Linked DNA regions of Homo sapiens. The protein of the gene in region 2 interacts with the protein of the main gene of each other region in a pairwise test. Each region holds a gene or a part of one and is shown on either strand. Other genes may lie near its edges.

Region 1 (3,750 bases), on a different chromosome or scaffold from region 2:
TGGGATCACTGGGACCCAACGCCCAGCAAAAGTTCTTAAGTTTCTATGGCAATTACCTCAGATTATTATAACTTCAAGGTGGCTGGGTATGGTGGTTCACCGCCTGTAACCCTAACACTTTGGGAGGGCAAGGGCACAGGATGGTTTGAAGCCAGGAGTTAGAGACCAGCCTGGGTAACAAAGCGAGACCCAGTCTCTACTAAGAAAAAAAAAAAAAAAAATTAGCGGTGCATGGTGGCCAGCACCTGTTGTCCTAGCTACTCAGGGGAGCTGAGGTGGGAGAATCGCTAGAGCCCAGGGGTTGGAGGCTGCAAAGAGCCGTGATCATGCCACTGCACTCTGGCCTGAGACCCCATCTCTTTAAAACAAACAAATAACCCCAAACAAACAAACAAACTTCAAGGCCCACAAAATACCCGGGAATTTCTCAAAAACGGCAGAAGCCAATCTAGCAATCAAAGTATGGAGTCTGGCTTTTTTTTTTTTTTGAGACAGAGTCTGGCTCTGTCGCCCAGGCTGGAGTGCAGAGGCGTGATCTCAGTTCACTGCAACCTCTGCCTCCCCGTTCAAGCCATTCTCCTGCCTCAGCCTCCTGAGTAGCTGGGACTACAGGCACGTGCCACCATGCCCGGCTAATTTTTTTTTATTTTTAGTAGAGACGGGGTTTCTCCACGTTGGCCAGGGTGGTCTTGAACTCCTGACCTCACCTGATCCACCCACCTGGGCCTCCCAAAGTGCTGGGATTACAGGCGTGAGCCACCGCACCGGGCCGAGTTTGGCTTTTACTCTAGAGCAGTCATTTTCAACCTTGACTACATATGACTTATCCAAGGAGCTTTTAAAACATAGGGCCGGACAGGGCGGGCGCGGTGCTTCACGCCTGTAATCTCAGCACTTTGGGAGGCCAAGGCGGGAGGAATGCTTGAGCCCTGGAGCTCGAGACCAGCCTGGGCAACATGGTAAGACCCCGTTTCTATAAAAATATAAATTAATTAAAAAAATAGAAAATACAGACATCTGGGCCTAGATCAATTAAACCACAATCTCTGGTAATGAGGTTTGGAAATGAACCAATTGTGGGGTCGGGGGAAAGCTACCTAGGTGCTTCTAATGTGCAGCTAAAGTTGAGAACCACTGATCTACAGTGAAAATACAGGCAGGGCCGGGCGCGGTGGCTCACGCCTGTTTTCCCAGCACTTTGGGAGGCCGAGGCGGGCGGATCACCTGAGGTTGGGAGTTCGAGACCAGCTTGACCATCATGGAGAAATGTCTCTACTAAAAATACAAAATTAGCCGGGCGTGGTGGCGCATGGCTGTAATCCCAGCTACTCCGGAGGCTGAGGCAGGAGAATCGCTTGAACCCGGGAGGCGGAAGTTGTAGTGAGCTGAGATCGTGCCATTGCACTCCAGCCTGGGCAACAAGAGCGAAACTCCGTCCCCCCCCAAAAAAAAATATATATATATATGTATGTATATATATACATATATATATGCATGCCTAGTTTCAAAAGTGGCTTTCAACTCCAGAATCAAGTAGGGACTTTAACAAGAAACTGACGATCTGGGGGAGTAGGAAAGGTTTTCTAAATTCACCTGGGAATTAGCTCGCAAAGAGCCCTCCACAAAACTTAACCCTAAAGCCGCCATTAATTTCCAACATTCCTCAAAGTCTTGTACTTCTTAATCTCCCTACCATCCTCAAAGCCCTGTCAAGACTTCCACTTCTGCTCTACCCGCCAAGTTTCCTTTTTATCCTATCAAACCCCAACCTCCATCAATCCCGCCACCAGGTTCCAGTTCAGCCCCTCCCCCGCCCCTTCGCAGGGGCTCCGCCTCCTCCCCGGGGCCTCCACGCTCCAACACCGTAGCTATGTCCACATGCCACCACCCCCTTTCCGCGTCCGCCGGCCCCTTCCGCTCCTCAAGACCGCACCTCCCCCGGCTCCTTCTCACTACCGAAACTCACCGAAGGAAACAGACGCCAGTGCTCCTCCCGGGGCTGCCACCACGGCTCCGGCAGGCGGGCCGGGGACCGGCCGAACCTGAGTTGACGGTGGAGGGGCTCGGGTTAGCTAGATGGGCGGTTGGTTAGATGCGTAAGCGGTAGTATGCGAGCTCAGTTCGTTGTTGCTGGTTGGCTGTCTAGTCGGCCGATCCGTCTGCTCACCCGGCCTGCCCTTTCCTGCCTTTCGTCTGCAGCGGCCGCCAGCTCCTGCTCGGTGTCCAAAACAAAATGGCCGCCACGTCCAGTGCTTGTCTGACCGGCTAAAATGGCGTCTACGCAATTACGTCAGGCGTCAGATCCGCGCACGACTAGAGGGCGGGAAAGATTTGAGCTACGCCTGCGCAGAGGTCAGAGGCGGAGCCTTAGGGCGAAGGCGGGGCTTTCCATGCAGTGCCCCGCCCCTAGGGGCGTGGCCAATGGTCCTGTTGTTGGGGCGTGCCGGGGACTTCACGTTCCAGTAGTGGTTGCGCTGCAACCTCTTGGGGGTAGTTATTAATGTGGGCCTTAGAGGGGATTTGGGTCCCGAATTCCCTCGCCCCTCCGTTCCCTAGCCAAGGTACACCGTCTAAAAATCTTTACGCGGACTTGCCTCGTCTTCTTCCGGACAATTGGGCCTGGGGAATTTGCACTGGTTTTCCCCTCATGGCCACTCGCCCAGTCTGAGAGTTGTGAAGTGCCGTAAATGCTCCAGCCAAGGCCCAGGAGGCCAGTATTAGGAGCAAATTCCTCTCCCATCCTGCACCGGCCAACACCACCGCCCGTCCATGTTTTCCTCCTCACTTCCTCCCCTCCCCAACTTGGCCTAGATACTGTTTACTCCTTCTTGGGGTGGGGCACCTTTGCGTCCTCGATTGCGTTTCCATGTCCTCCCCCCACACCTGCCATCCGTGTTTATTTTGTTGCAGACCTACATAGGGATTTCTCTTTTCTCTCTCTGATTTGTTGTTGTTATTTTGAGACGGGGTCTGGCTCTGTTGTCCAGGCTGGAGTCAGTGGCGCAATGAATCACGGATCACTGCAGCCTTGACCTACTGGGCTCAGGTGATCCTCTCACCTCAGCCTCCCGACTCCTAGGATTATGGGCATAAGCTATGTTTCCTGCTCAATAAGGGATTTTTCTCTCTTTCTTTTTTTTTTCTTTTTGCAGATGGAGTCTCGCTGTGTCACCCAGACTGGAGTGCAGTGGTACCATCTCGGCTCACTGCAACCTCCGCCTCCCAGGTTCAAGCGATTCTCCTGCCTCAGCCTCCTGAGTAGCTGGAATTACAGGCGCGTACCACCATGCCCCGCTAATTTTTGTATTTTTAGTAGAGATGGGGTTTCACCAGGCTGGTCTCCAACTCCTGACCTCAAGTGATCTGCCCGCCTCTGTCTCCCAAAGTGCTGGGACTACAGTCGTGAGCCACTGTGCCCGGCCTCAATAAGGGATTTTTCTAATGACTATGTGCACAATACAGTGTACATATGTTTGAGGAATGAGAGAATGACACATCTGCAACCCTTCCTCTGCTCCACTGGCACGTCAAGACCCTTTCATTTTCCTTCCTGGCACTTGGGCGTGTGCGTGTGTGTATGTGTTTGTGTGTGTCTGTGTGTAAGTAATGGCCCAGCATCCTTACCCATGTGAGGGTAAGGATCGTGGTTATTTTGCTTAATGCTGGAGCCTCAGTTCCTACAGTGTTTACACATAGTACCACTTAAGTAAATGTTCGTTGATTGAAAGAAGATTCTTTCGGCCTAGCGCG
Region 2 (3,650 bases):
GCCGGGAGGAGGAGCAGCTGCGGGAGCTGCTGGAGCAGCAGGCGGCCTCGGAGCAGCGCGGCCGCCAGCAGCGGGAACAGGTCTGTTTGGCTCACCGGGTCTTCATCAGCAGTGTCCTTCCTGGTCCATGGATGTTGGTGTGCTCCTAGCCACCTGCGCCCCGGGGTTGTCCCCATTCCCCAAAGGAAGACATTTGGGCTCCTGAGAGAGTGAGGGGCAGATGCCCCTCCTGGTTTTCCTTCTCCCTCCCTGGGCGAGATTTTTGGGGCTCTTCCTTTGTCCCCTGTCCGTTTGCTATTTAAATGTGGGTGTGTAAAAACTTCCAAACTGGCCGGAAGCAGTGGCTCACGCCTGTAATCATAGCACTTTGGGAGGCCGAGGCGGGCGGATTGCCTGAGCTCAGGAGTTTGAGACCAGCCTGGGCAACATGGCGAAACCCCGTCTCTGCTTAAAAATACAAAAATTAGCAGGGCGTGGTGGCGGGCGCCTGTAGTCCCAGCTACTTGGGAGGCTGAGGCAGGAGAATCGCTTGAATCCGGGAGATGGAGGTTGCAGTGAGCCAAGATCGCACCATTGCACTCCAGCAGCCTGCGTGACAAGAAGGAGACTCCGTCTCAAAAAAAAAAAAAAAAAAAAAAGAGAAAAAGAAAACTTCCAAACCCACCCCACAATAGTCAGGCAGCTCCCATGTCCTGTGCCCACCAGCTTCATCAATGATTAATATTCTTACATTCTTGTTTCATTATCTCCAATTTGTTCTCGTCCCCAGTTTTAAAAGCCAATCCCAGACATCATATGGTCTGTACATATGTTTAGAGTGTATCATTGACAGATAAGAAATCCTTTTAGGCTGGGCCAAGTGGCTCACACCTGTAATCCCAGTACTTGCGGGGTGGGGGGGGGGTACGGGGGGCGGGGCAAAGTGGGAGGATCGCTTGAGGCCAAGACTATGAGACCAGCCTGGCAATATTATAATAAGACACCGTTTCTGTGAAAAATAAAAATACAAAAATTAACCAGGCATGGTGGCATGTGCCTGTGGCCTCAGACTCAGAAGAGTGAGGTGGGAGGATCAATTGAGCCCAGAAGGTAGAGGCTGCAGTGAGCTGTGATTATAACATTGCACTCCAACCTGGGCGATAGAGCAAGACCCTGTCTCAAAAATAAAAAATTAATAAGTTCTTAGTATTGTCTTATTTCTGGTTAGTTTTTGTGTTTCCCAGACAGTCTCAAAATGCCAGTTAACAGGTGGCTTGTTTGAATGAAGTCCCCAAAGTTCAGTGTGATTGGCTGATACGTCTTGCCCATTGTTTTATCTCTGGTGGTTCCTACCCGCTGTGTCTTCCCCATACTGTTTATTGGAAAAATCCAGTCTTCTGTCCTATAGGCAGAGCATGGCTGATCGCATGCCTGTGGTGCCCTTGAACATGCCTCTGTTTCTGCAAGTGGGTGTTGGTTAGAGGGAGAGGTTTGATCGTATTCAGAAGTGCTTTAGTGCTTCCTGAGCCAGTGTTGGGAACCTCATCTCTGGTTGTCCCGACCTAATAAGATCACCCTAGTCTCTTTTTTTTTGCGAGACACAGTTTCGCTCTTGTTGCCCAGGCTGGAGTGCAATGGCGTGATCTTGGCTCACCGTAACCTCTGCCTCCCAGGTTCAAGCGATTCTCCTGTCTTAGCCTCCCCAGTAGCTGGGATTACAGGCATGCACCACCATGCCCGGGTAATTTTGTATTTTCAGTAGAGATGGGGTTTCTCCATGCTGGTCAGGCTGGTCTCGAACTCCTGACCTCAGGTGATCTGCCCGCCTTGGCCTCCCAAAGTGCTGGGATTACAGGTATGAGCCACCGCAGTTCGAGGCCAGCCTGGCCAACATGATGAAACCCCATCTCTACTAAAAATACAAAAAATTAGCTGGGCGTGGTGGCAGGCACCAGTAATCCCAGCTATTCGGGAGGCTGAGGCAGGAGAATTGCTTGAATCCGGGAGGTGGAGGTTGCAGCTCCCAGGAGCCAAGATCACACCACTGCACTCCAGCCTGGGCAACGGGAGCAGAACTCCATCTCAAAAAAAAGAATCTTTTATCTGAAGATTGTAACATCCATCAGTGGTCATTGCTTGGGTCAGTTACCATTATAGGTTGGAAAATGGTGACTTGTGATTTTGTCAGTTTTTTTCTTTGCAAGTGTCGTGTATGTTGGAATTTTATGAGGCTGGGTCCTAGGCCCTCATTTATCCTCAAAGATCACATATTTCTCCCAGGCCCTCTCTCCTGAGACAGAAATGTGCTCTTCTTCCTAGGGTACTGGCTACTTCATACTCCCTTCTCACCCAGATCCAGAAATCTCGGTCGCAGCCCCTTCTCCCTCTGTCCCAGGAGTCCAGACCCCCAGCTCCTCCTCCCTCAAACCCAGAAGTCCAGACCCCCAGATCCTCCTTCCTTAGATCCAGGAATCCAGGCCCCAGCCCCTCCTCCCTCTGACCCAGGAGTCTGGCTGACCTCAGCAACTCCCTTCTCCACACTGTTTGTCTTGCTGTCCCTTTGGTCACCAGGCCAGAGTCCTGGACTTTGCCCTGTACACTTCCCTGTCTCTCACCTCCAAGCCCGTCAACCACCATGTCCTATCCTTTCTGCTTCCTGATCCTCTCTGTCTAGTCCATCTATTTTTCAGCCCCACCGCCCAGGCCCCAGCTTAGGTCTCACCCTCATTGCTTGGAGGACTCCCGAGGCAGCTGCTCTCCACCCCTGTAACCCATCTCCCAGAGGGATGATTCCTAGCTCCTACCCCATCCTTTCAGTCCTTCTGAGGCTCCCCATATCCCCAGGTTGACCAAACCCCCCGTGAGCTGGACGAGCTGGCCTTCCCACTGTCCTCTCCCACCACGTTCTTCCCACCACCACATCCTCTTCCACCCTGGCTGGAGTTTGTCCCCCAGACTTCTTGTACTTTTCAACTTTCATGCATTTGTGCCAAGCCGCTTCCTCTGCCCAAAATGCTCTTCTAGCTCCTTTTATTTTCCCAGATCCAAATGCTCCCTGATTGTTTTGTTTTGTTTTGATTTTGAGACAGGGTCTCACTGTCGCCCAGGCTGGAGTGCAGTAGTGCAATCACTGCAGCCTCAACCTCTGGCTGACATTGTTCTTCATTCTGGGTTCCCACAGTCTCTGGATTTTACTGCCCTGATCTTTCCAACTGGCTGTGTTCCCACTTGGAGGACAGGGCCCAGACACAATCCACTTCTGCATCCACCGTATCACATAACATGAATATGTTTTGCATTCATTAATTTTCTTTCTTCTTTCCTTCCTTCCATCATTCCTTCCTTCCTTCCTTTTTGTTTCTCTTTCTCCTCCTTTCCTTTTCTTTCTTTTTCTTTCTCTTCCCTCCCTCCCTCTTTTCTTTCTCTCTCTCCTTCCTTCGTTCCTTCCCTCTTTCTCTCTTTCTTTCTTTTCTGTCTTTTCTCCTTTCCTTCCCTTTCGAGACAGTGTCTCCCTCTGTCACCCAGACTGGAACAGTGATGCAAACACAGCTCAGTGCAGCCTCAATCTCCCTGGCTCAAGCAATCCTCCCACCTCAGCCTCCCGAGTAGCTGGAACTACAGGCGTGCACTAACACACTCCACTAATTTTTTTGTTTTTTTGTAGAGATGGG

What was found. The genes of interacting proteins can lie anywhere in the genome.
Region 1: the proteins of PHLDB3 (region 2) and CHTOP interact in binary tests that used the Homo sapiens proteins (3 or more experiments, as listed by UniProt).

What each region holds. Positions count from the first base shown.
Region 1 is NC_000001.11:153,632,560-153,636,309, reverse strand, and holds the start of CHTOP (chromatin target of PRMT1 protein), read right to left. Parts: upstream 2,245-3,750; 5' UTR 1,967-2,244; exon of another isoform or gene 1,949-1,966; intron 1-1,948. UniProt on the Homo sapiens protein: Plays an important role in the ligand-dependent activation of estrogen receptor target genes. May play a role in the silencing of fetal globin genes.
Region 2 is NC_000019.10:43,498,164-43,501,813, reverse strand, and holds part of PHLDB3 (pleckstrin homology-like domain family B member 3), read left to right. Parts: coding exon 1-80; intron 81-3,650.